Homo sapiens: one gene and its partner. The protein of the gene in region 2 interacts with the protein of the main gene of each other region in a biochemical or structural test. Each region holds a gene or a part of one and is shown on either strand. Other genes may lie near its edges.

Region 1 (4,593 bases), on a different chromosome or scaffold from region 2:
CACAATGGAAAAAATCATAACTTGGAGATTAAGAATGATGACTGTGTAGATGGACTGCCAACAATAAAATTCTGTCTCTAACTTCTAGTAGCTATGTGACTTCAGACAAGTTACTTATTCACTCTCTGTGCCTTAGTTTCCTCATCTGTAAAACAAGAATAATAATACTTACCTAATACGATTGTTATAAAAATTAAATGAGAACAGCTGGTAAGTATTACTAATAAATATTAGATATTATTATAGTTAGTACAAATTCATGATGTCAATGGCTTAATTAGTTTTATCCCTTCAAAGGTATTTCATATTAACAGTGGGTTTTACATTCATTTTTATTCCACAAACATACATTGAACTCTAATCCAACATACTAGGCACCCACTGTAAGCACTGCAATGCTCTGGTAAACAAGGAAAGCAAAAGTTCTGCTCTCATGGAACTTATATCCTAAGTATGCTGGTTTTGTTGTGTTTTTTGAGACAGGGTCTCACTCTGTCTCCTAGTCACCCAGACAGGAATGCAGTGGCACAATCATGGCTCACTGCAGCCTCAACCTCCCAGGCTCAGGTCATCCTCGCATCTCAGTCTCCCACGTAGCTGGGACTACAGGGAATGCTACCACACCCTGCTAATTTTTTGTATTTTTTTGTACAGATGGGGTTTCACCACGTTGCCCAGGCTGGTCTCAAACTTTTGGGCTCAAGCAATCCACCTACATCAGCCTCCCAAAGTGCTAGGATTACAGGTATGAGCCACCATGTCCAGCCCTAAGTATACTGTTGAATCCATAAACTTACTTGTCCATTCAACTACAATGAAAACGTGGAGGGAAAATATAAAATGGGCCTCAGAGGGTGGCTCACACCTGTAACCCCGGCACTCTGGGAGGCCGAGGCAGGAGGATTGCTTGAGCCCAGGAGTTTGAGACCAGCCGGGGCAATATAGTGAGACCCGGTCACTATCTAAAATAATAAAAACTTTAAAACAAGAAAATACATTGACGAAATTATGAAAAGTGACATAAATTTGAAGAGTTTATGTGAAAAGTTGGAGACAGTTGCTACAGACTAGACATAAAGATTAGCAACAAAATAGGAAAGTGCAGCCTGGCATATAGAAGGAACTTAATTATCCACTCCTTTCCCTGGGTTTGTCTCCTTAAGTGTAAAATGATAGGTGTTGTCATATTTCCAACCTGAAGATTCACTGATGTCTACTTACTAAAGTCATTATGGCATATTAGGCAGTCGTGGTTTTTTTTTTTTTTTTTTTTTTTTTAGACGGAGTCTCACTCTGTCGCCCAGGCTAGAGTGCAGTGGTACGATCTCAGCTCACTGCAACCACCACCTTCCAGGTTCAAGCGATTCTCCCGCCTCAGCCTCCCGAGTAGCTGGGATTACAGGCACCTGCCACCATGCCTGGCTAATTTTTGTATTTTTAGTAGAGACAGGGTTTCTCCATGTTGGCCAGGCTGGTCTTGAACTCCTGACCTCAGGTGATCTGCCCACTTCGGCCTCCCAAAATGCTAGGATTACAGGCATGAGCCACCATGCCCGGCCAAGGCAGCATTCTTAAAAACAGATGGCGGCGGAGCATGGCGGCTCACGCCTGTAATCCCAGCACTTTGGGAGGCCAAGGTGGGCGGATCACCTGAGGTGAGGAGTTCAAGACCAGCCTGGCCAACATGGAGAAACCCTGTCTCTATTAAAAATAAAAAATTAGCCGGCGTGATGGCAGGTGCCTGTAATCCCAGCTACTCGGGAGGCTGAGGCGGGAGAATAGCTTGAACCCAGGAGGCGGAGGTTGCAGTGAGCCAAGATCACGCCATTGCACTCCAGCCTGGGCGACACAGTAAGACCCTGTCTCAAAAAAAAAAAAAAAAAAAAAAAAAGGCCTTTGCAATATAATAAAATACTATCTCTTTTTTTGTTGGGGGACAGGGTCTCACTCCAACACCCAGGCTGGAGTACAGTGGCATGATCACAGCTCACTGCAGCTTCAACTTTCCAGGCTCAGGTGATACTCCCATCTCAGCCTCCCAAGTAGCTGGGACTATAGAAGTGCACCACAGTGCCCGGAAAATTTTTTGTATTTTTTGTAGTAAAGGGGTTTCGTCACGTTGTCCGGGCTGGTCTCAAATTCCTGGGCTCAAGCAATCGGCCTGCCTCGGCCTCCCAAAGGGATTAGAGGCACGAGCCACCACACCTGGCCATAAAAGAATATCTTGACATCTTAACTTTACATTGCATGAATTCCTATTTTCCCATATCTGAAAAAGGTAAATAAAGGTAACAGGTAAGAATTGTGTTAATTGACGCAGTTAAAACTAAGTTATATAGGTGAAAATTAGCTAAAAAAAATTTTCTTCCTAAATGACAGCCTTACAAACCCAAACGGTATTACCCTTTTCCTTCTACATTCTTCATCCACAGTAACTTGTACATAATAGCACAAAAAGAATTCTCTGCTAATGAGAATACCAGAATCAAGAGAGATAAAAACCTACACTTACTACAAACTCATTCAACATCTCTAGTTTGAATTTGGAATTGTAAATCAAATACCTAATCTCCTCCCAACTGTTCCCTCAGCCAATGCATTACAAATGACACATTCAATTTAAAAAGTGTTCCACCTTGGCTGGGCATGGTGGTCATGCCTATAATCCCAGCTCTTGGGGAGTGCCCAACGCAGGAAGATCACTTGAGGCCAGGAGTTAAAGACCAGCCTGGGCAACATAGCAAGACCCTGTCTCTAAAAAAAATTTAAAATTAGCCAGCCACGGTGGTGCACACCTGTGGTCCCACCTACTCAGGAGGCTGAAGTGGGAGGATCACATGCTCCCAGAAGGTCAAGGCTGCAGTGAGCCATGATTGTGTCACTGCACTCCAGCCTCAGTGACAGAGCAAGACCCTCTCCTATGGGGAAAAAAAATGTGTTCCTCAAAACTTGTCTAGTCCGGGCCGGGCACGGTGACTCAAGCCTGTAATCCCAGCACTTTGGGAGGCCGAGGCAGGCGGATCACAAGGTCAGGAGATCGAGACCACCCTGGCTAACAGGGTGAAACCCTGTCTCTACTAAAAATACAAAAAAAAAAATTAGCCGGGCGTGGTGGCGGGTACCTGTAGTCCCAGCTACTCGGGAGGCTGAGGCAGGAGAATGGCGTGAACCTGGGAGGCGGAGCTTGCAGTGAGCCAAGATAGCACCACTGCACTCCAGCCTGGGCGACAGAGTGAGACTCTGTCTCAAAACAAACAAACAAACAAAAAAAAAACAAAACAAAACTTGTCTAGTCCATAGATAAGAAACAGCCTAAAGTTTCATGGACCACCTACCCACCGAGTTCTACTTGCCAGTGATAAGTAGAACTAGTGAAAAATGATAGAATATGAAGAATTATCAATTCGAGAAAAAAAATCATCACAGAACTATTACTTCAACACAACTCTTAGAGAGTACCAACCATATTTTACTCTTCTTCTAATGCAGCACCACAGTGAAAAATGCAGAAGAACGTGGTCCCCTTGAAAAACACTGCAGGGCCACCAGCACAATTAACATGTTCAAGCACTATTACTAACCCTAAGGATTAACTTGGCCGGGTCAGTGGCTCACACCTATAATCCCAGCAGTTTAGGAGGCTAAGGTGGGAGGATTGCTTGAGGACAGGAGTTCAAGATCAGCCTGGGCAACATAGCAAGATCCCATTTCTACAAAAAGTTAAAAAATGTATCCAGGTGTGGTGGTGTGTGTCTGTAGACCCAGATACTCAGGAGGCTGAGGTGGGAAGATCACTTGAGCTCAGGAGTTCAAGGCTACAGTGAGCTGTGATTACACCATTGCACTACAGTCTGGGAGACAGAGCAAGAACCTGTCTGAAAAATAAAAATAAGTATTATTTTTAAAAAGGATTAACTGAAGTGAAGGTTAAAGAGTGAAATATTTTTTAAAATCTTGACAAAACTAACAAGAATTGTAAAAAAAAAAAAAAAAAAAAAAAAATTAGTACTCCAGCAAAAATACAAAGTAGAAAAAACTCAAAGAAATAGGCATGGTGTCCCTAGTCCTTAAAATGGCTCTAAGGAAAGAAGGTATGACAGTGTAGCAAAGAATTCTGACCTGAAAACATTTACTTTCACTAAGCACAGTACATTTCCACCTATGTCCCTCCATTCATTAATCTCATTTCCCAAAAAGCAACAGGCTACTGAAAAAATCCACAATGTATCTCTGATCTCTTCCTCATGATATACAAGAGCAAAGGGAGAAAAGAAAAAAGAAAATATATCTTCTGATTTGATTGAACTGAACATGGGATCAATAAGTCAGAAGAGATGGAATAATTTTTCAACATCAAAAAAGAAATCTGGTCAAAGTGTCTCACATCTGTATTCCCAACTTGGAGAGACTGAGGCAAGGCTTGCTTGAGACCAGGAGATCAAGATCAGCATGGGCAACATAGCAAGGCATCTGTCTCTACAAAAAAATTTAAAAATTAACCGCGCATGGTGGCAAGGCACCTGTAGTCCCAGCTATTCGGGAGGCTGATCGTGAGAGGATCACTTGAGCCCCTGAGGTGGAGGCTGCCGTGAG
Region 2 (5,203 bases):
GTTTTCTTTTTTTTTTTTTTTTTTTTTTGAGACGGAGTCTCACTCTGTCGCCCAGGCTGGAGTGCAGTGGCGCGATCTCGGCTCACGGCAAGCTCCACCTCCCGGGTTCACGCCATTCTCCTGCCTCAGCCTCCTGAGTAGCTGGGACTACAGGCACCCACCACCACGCCTGGCTAATTTTTTATATTTTTAGTAGAGACGGGGTTTCACCGTGTTAGCCAGGATGGTCTTGATCTCCCGAACTTGTGATCCGCCCGCCTCGGCCTCCCAAAGTGCTGGGATTACAGGCAAAATTTCTGTTTTCATTTAAGGCAGTGACTATTTCCCTTAGGATGTGATTTTTTTATCCTTCTAAGATGAGATCACCATCCTCAGAATAATTTGTACCCTGCTGGGCACTAGCTAATGGAGGTGATGTCATGCTAAGCAGCACTTCAGTGAGTTTTGCGGGAACCAAAGCTCTGCTCCCAGGAGTGTGGATTTGGTGCTTTCATGTGGAAAAAGCGGATGATGACAAGTAGAGAGCAAATGTGCGCATGTCTGATGCTGTAAGGATTTCATCTACCATCATATAAATTTTTAGAAGTATATCAAAATAAACTGATAACTGAGGCAATGTATGTTGTTCAGATACTAATAATGAAGTTAATGAAGTCCACTATAGTATTTGTATAGTATTTGTATATTACAGTACTCTGAAAAGCTGGTCACTATTTAAAGTTTCCATTACCAGTCACAAGGAGAGAATAATTTTATCCCACAATTTTATTGCTGGCAAAAGACACAAGTTTATTAAAAGTCAGTATTTCAGTGTAAGAGTTACTAGACTGTTTGCAGAAGTGTTCAAAAGAGATCTTTAGGTCCTTGGTTGTCTGTGGAAGCTGATCAGCATTTAGGGGTTCCTGAGCACAGACTGTGAACCCTGCATTTGGCACATGCATTCAGAGAGCCAATTTGAGGCAGACTGGGGGCTAGAAAGGATACTGCCAGGAGCTCCAGGTTCAGCTTCCGAAGTTATTAAGTCTTATTTCCCAGTTTTTAAATTAGACTTCATTTTTTAGAGCAGTTTTAGGTTCAAACCAAAATTGAGAAGAACGTACAGAGACATCCTGTATCCCACCTGCCCCCCAACACGTGCGTAGTCTCCCCCATTATCAACATCCTGCACCAGAGTAGTACATTCTTACAAAGGAACCTACACTGACACGTCATCATCACCCAAACGCCATCGTTCACAATCAAGTTCACTCTTGGTGCTGTTTATCCTATGGTTTTGGACAAATTTACAAGGACTTGTATCCACCATTATATTGTCACACTGAGTAGTTTCACTGCCTTAAAAAGTCTCCGTGCGGGCCGGGCACGGTGGCTCACGCCTGTAATCCCAGCACTTTGGGAGGCCAAGGCGGGCAGATCACGAGGTTAGGAGTTCGAGACCAGCCTGGCCAACATGGTGAAACCCCGTCTCTACTAAAAATACAAAAATTAGCCTGGCATGGTGGCATGCGCCTGTAATCCCAGCTACTCAGGAGGCTGAGGCAGGAGAATCGCTTGAAACCTAAAGGCGGAGGTTGCAGTGAGCCGAGACCACGCCACTGCACTCCAGCCTGAGCAAGGAGCGAAATTCCATCTCAAAACAAAAAAAAAAAAAAAAAAAAATTCTCTGTGCTGTCTCCCTCCCTCCTAGCCACTGGCAACCACTGATCTTTTTACTGTCTCCATAGTTTTGCCTTTTCCAGATTGTCAGATAGTTGGAATCATGCGGTATATATGGCCTTTTCAAACTGGCTTCTTTCACTTAGTAATAATGCATTTAAAGTGTTCATGGCTTGCTAGCTCATTTCTTTTTAGTGCTCAGTAATATTCTGTTCTCTGGATATACCACGGTTTATTTATTCATTCACCGACTGAAGGACATCTTAGTTGCTTCTAGTTTTGACAGTTATGAATAAAACTGCTATAAACATCTGTGTGCAGGCTTTTGTGTGAACATAAGTTTTCAACTCCTTTGGGTAAATACCAAAGAGTGCGTATTTACCATATGGCTGGATCATATGGTAAGAGTATGTTTAGTTTTGTAGGAAACTGCCAAACTGTCTTTCGAGTTGGCTGTACCATTTTGCATTTCCACGAGCAGTGATTGAGAATCCCTGTTGCTCCACATCCTCACCAGCATTTGGTGTTGATGGTGTTCTGGTTTTGGCCATTCTGCTAGGTATGTAATGATACCTCATTGTTGCTTTAATTAGCATTTCCCATTATTTGCAGTCTGTGTATCTTTGATGAGGCCCACTGGATTTTCACTTTAGATTTTCTATAGATTGGCCATAAAGTCTTGAAACAAAGATATTTTCTCATGGATTATAATGCAATATCAGTAAACTATTATGTGTTCACCTACGTTTCCAGACTTGTTAGCTACCCTGTACTGTTCTCTCAGTTAATCAAGTTAACCACAATTTGTTTCTCAACCACAGGTGGCTAATGATTTTGTATGTGGTCTGTCCGCTTTGAATTGATGTGCATGGGGCAAGTTGGTCTCTATGATATTCATGGTTCAAGGAAGTTCGAGATTTCCTGGTACCTAATACATGTTTATTGTACATATGAAAGAAAAAAGGGCAGATAGAGGGGAACATGGTACTGAGCATGATAGAGGCAAGGAAGGGTGGCTACTTTGATAGGAGAATACCCCTATTTTTGTCACTCTTGAAACAGGGCCAAGAGTTGAAATTGGCTAGAACAATCCTGACCTTTGTTGATATTATTTTATAGAATAATATTTGTTACTGTTTTCTCACTTTTAAAAAATGCAGATGTTATAGAAAAATTAGAAGATATAGAGGAATGTTAAGGAGTAAATAAGGTGTCAGTAATGCCATCACCCAGACAGCCACTGTTAATAAATATGTTAATATGTGAAGACATACTAATATGTAATATGTACTGAGTGACTAATGGCAGGTCACTTAGTAGCTGTCTCGATTATCAGATCAACTGTCATGGTATGGCAGTGTTTATGTTCAGGTACCCGTATTAGTTATTGTTGTTAATCCCTTTCTGCGCCCAAGTTATAAACTAAACTTTTTCATAGGTATGTACGTATAGGAAAAAATATGCTGCATATAGGCTCAGTACTGTATTTGGTTTCAAGCATCTACTGGGGGACTTGGGAGGTACCCCCTGCCCCTGCCCCACAGGTATACTACTGTATAATTATTCTTCTATCTAAAGTAAGATCTAATGGAAGATAGGAACTTTGTCTTGTCTTCCACTCTGTCCTATTTCCCAGGATGATACCTGGCACAAAGTATTTGTTTACTGACAAACTAAAAGATGATTTATCCCAATTATACTCACATCTTCCCTTGATTTTCCAGAAAGCCTACAGGAAGTAAGATGGTAGAAAAGCAAAGTCTTCGTAGAAATGCAGAGCATAGACTGGCTCTTGGAGAAGGTCAAACATCACCCTCTCCTGTGGTTAAATTGAGATGGTGGCACTGGCTGTCTTCTATATTATTGCTGCACCTTTCCTCACCAGGGGTGCACACAAAACTGGGAGAGAGGGGAGGAAGGAGCTTAGCTTTGTCTTAATAGAAGGGAAGAAATGATGTTTTCCAAGAGACCTTGAAATTGGGGACCTTGGTAAAGGTTTCAGTTTGGGAAGATAAAAAAGTCCTGGGATGGATTCCAACAGTGTAACTGTACTCAATGCCACTGAGCTGTACGCTTAAGAGTGGTAAATTTTATGTCTATTTCACCACAGTTTTAAAGATTAAAATTTTTAAAAGTGGGGGAAGTTACCTAGGACTTTCTAGAAGGACTTTTGAGGGTGAGCAAGTTCTGTTATAGGCTTGTGTATTATTTTGGTATTTCTGATTTTATCATAGGAGTGAGGTTAAAGTTGTATTTTGACTGGAATTTTTGACATTGTCAGGGTTTCTAGAGTGTGGAGAAGGTCACTCAGTATTTTTTGTTTTTGTTTTTTGTTTTGCCTTTGTTCTTGTTTTCCTCTATTTAGGGAGGTGGATTGCCATGGGAAGTACCTTTGCTTCGAAAAGCCAGAAAATGCCTGGTAGAACTCCAGAAAAGTAGTAAGGAGCTGGCTTCTTCAGAGGCAGCATAGCAGAGTGGGAAGAGGGCCCTGTCACTTAGATTGTGACTGTCGACAAAGTCACTTAACCACCAGAAGTTGGGTTTTCTGACGTTTAGAATTTTGAAAAGATTAAAACTGAGTGCCTTGCAAAGTACCTGGTATATATTAAGTGCTCAATAAGTGATAGTTGCTTTGATTCTAAGAACTGGTTCACCTTGTGAGATATAATTGTGTAATGGAAGAATGAAAGCAGAAACTTTAGTTTCTACTTTTACATTTCCTGGGCCATTTTACTACCCTAAATGAGAAGCTGGGCTTCCAAAACCCACTTTAAAAGTAAAGACTAGGCCGGGTGCGGTGGCTCTTGCCTGTAATCCCAGCACTTTAGGAGGCCTAGGTGGGCAGATCACTTGAACTCAGGAGTTTGAGACCAGCCTGGGCAATACAGCGAGACCGTATGTCTACAAAAAATACAAAAATTAGCCAGACATGGTGGTGCATGCCTGTAATCCCAGCTACTCGGGAGGCTGAGGCGGGAGAATTTGAGTCCAGGAGATCGAAGCTGCAGTGAGCCGTGATTGCGCCGCTGCCCTCCAGCCTGGGTGACAGAGTGAGACCCTGCCTCAAAAGAAAAAAAAAAAAAGAATAAAGATTAATGGAGATTTGGAACATCTTGATACTGTATCTTGGGAATCTAAGCATTGTAGAATTGTGTTATGTGAGTTATACCATTGTGGTGGGAAGTTTTTGATTTTTGTTTTAACTGTGTTGAGTTGCAGTTCTTAGAAATGACCCGAGGTGTTGTCTTACAAAAGAAATAAACTGTAATCTGTATCTTGATCTGATGAGGGTATGTAAATATAAAAAATCGAGCTGTATACTTTCTATATGCTTTATGTAGTTCACTATATATAATTCATAGCTCAATTAAAAAGAGAGAGAGAGGCTAAATTGTATGTACCATTGCAAAGAAATCATTATCCCCAGAACTGACTCACATACACCTTTAACAGTAGAGGGAGAACTGAGGTATTAATTTGGAAAAATAATCACTGGGATAATTAATATAATGCAGTGGTTTTATGACTGATTTTTTATTAACTTCTA

What was found.
Region 1: the proteins of CASP3 (region 2) and ARNT form a complex in vitro, tested with the Homo sapiens proteins (one study listed by BioGRID).

What each region holds. Positions count from the first base shown.
Region 1 is NC_000001.11:150,870,042-150,874,634, forward strand, and holds part of ARNT (aryl hydrocarbon receptor nuclear translocator), read right to left. Parts: intron 1-4,593. UniProt on the Homo sapiens protein: Required for activity of the AHR. Upon ligand binding, AHR translocates into the nucleus, where it heterodimerizes with ARNT and induces transcription by binding to xenobiotic response elements (XRE).
Region 2 is NC_000004.12:184,638,486-184,643,688, reverse strand, and holds part of CASP3 (caspase-3 isoform a preproprotein), read left to right. Parts: intron 1-5,203. UniProt on the Homo sapiens protein: Thiol protease that acts as a major effector caspase involved in the execution phase of apoptosis. Following cleavage and activation by initiator caspases (CASP8, CASP9 and/or CASP10), mediates execution of apoptosis by catalyzing cleavage of many proteins.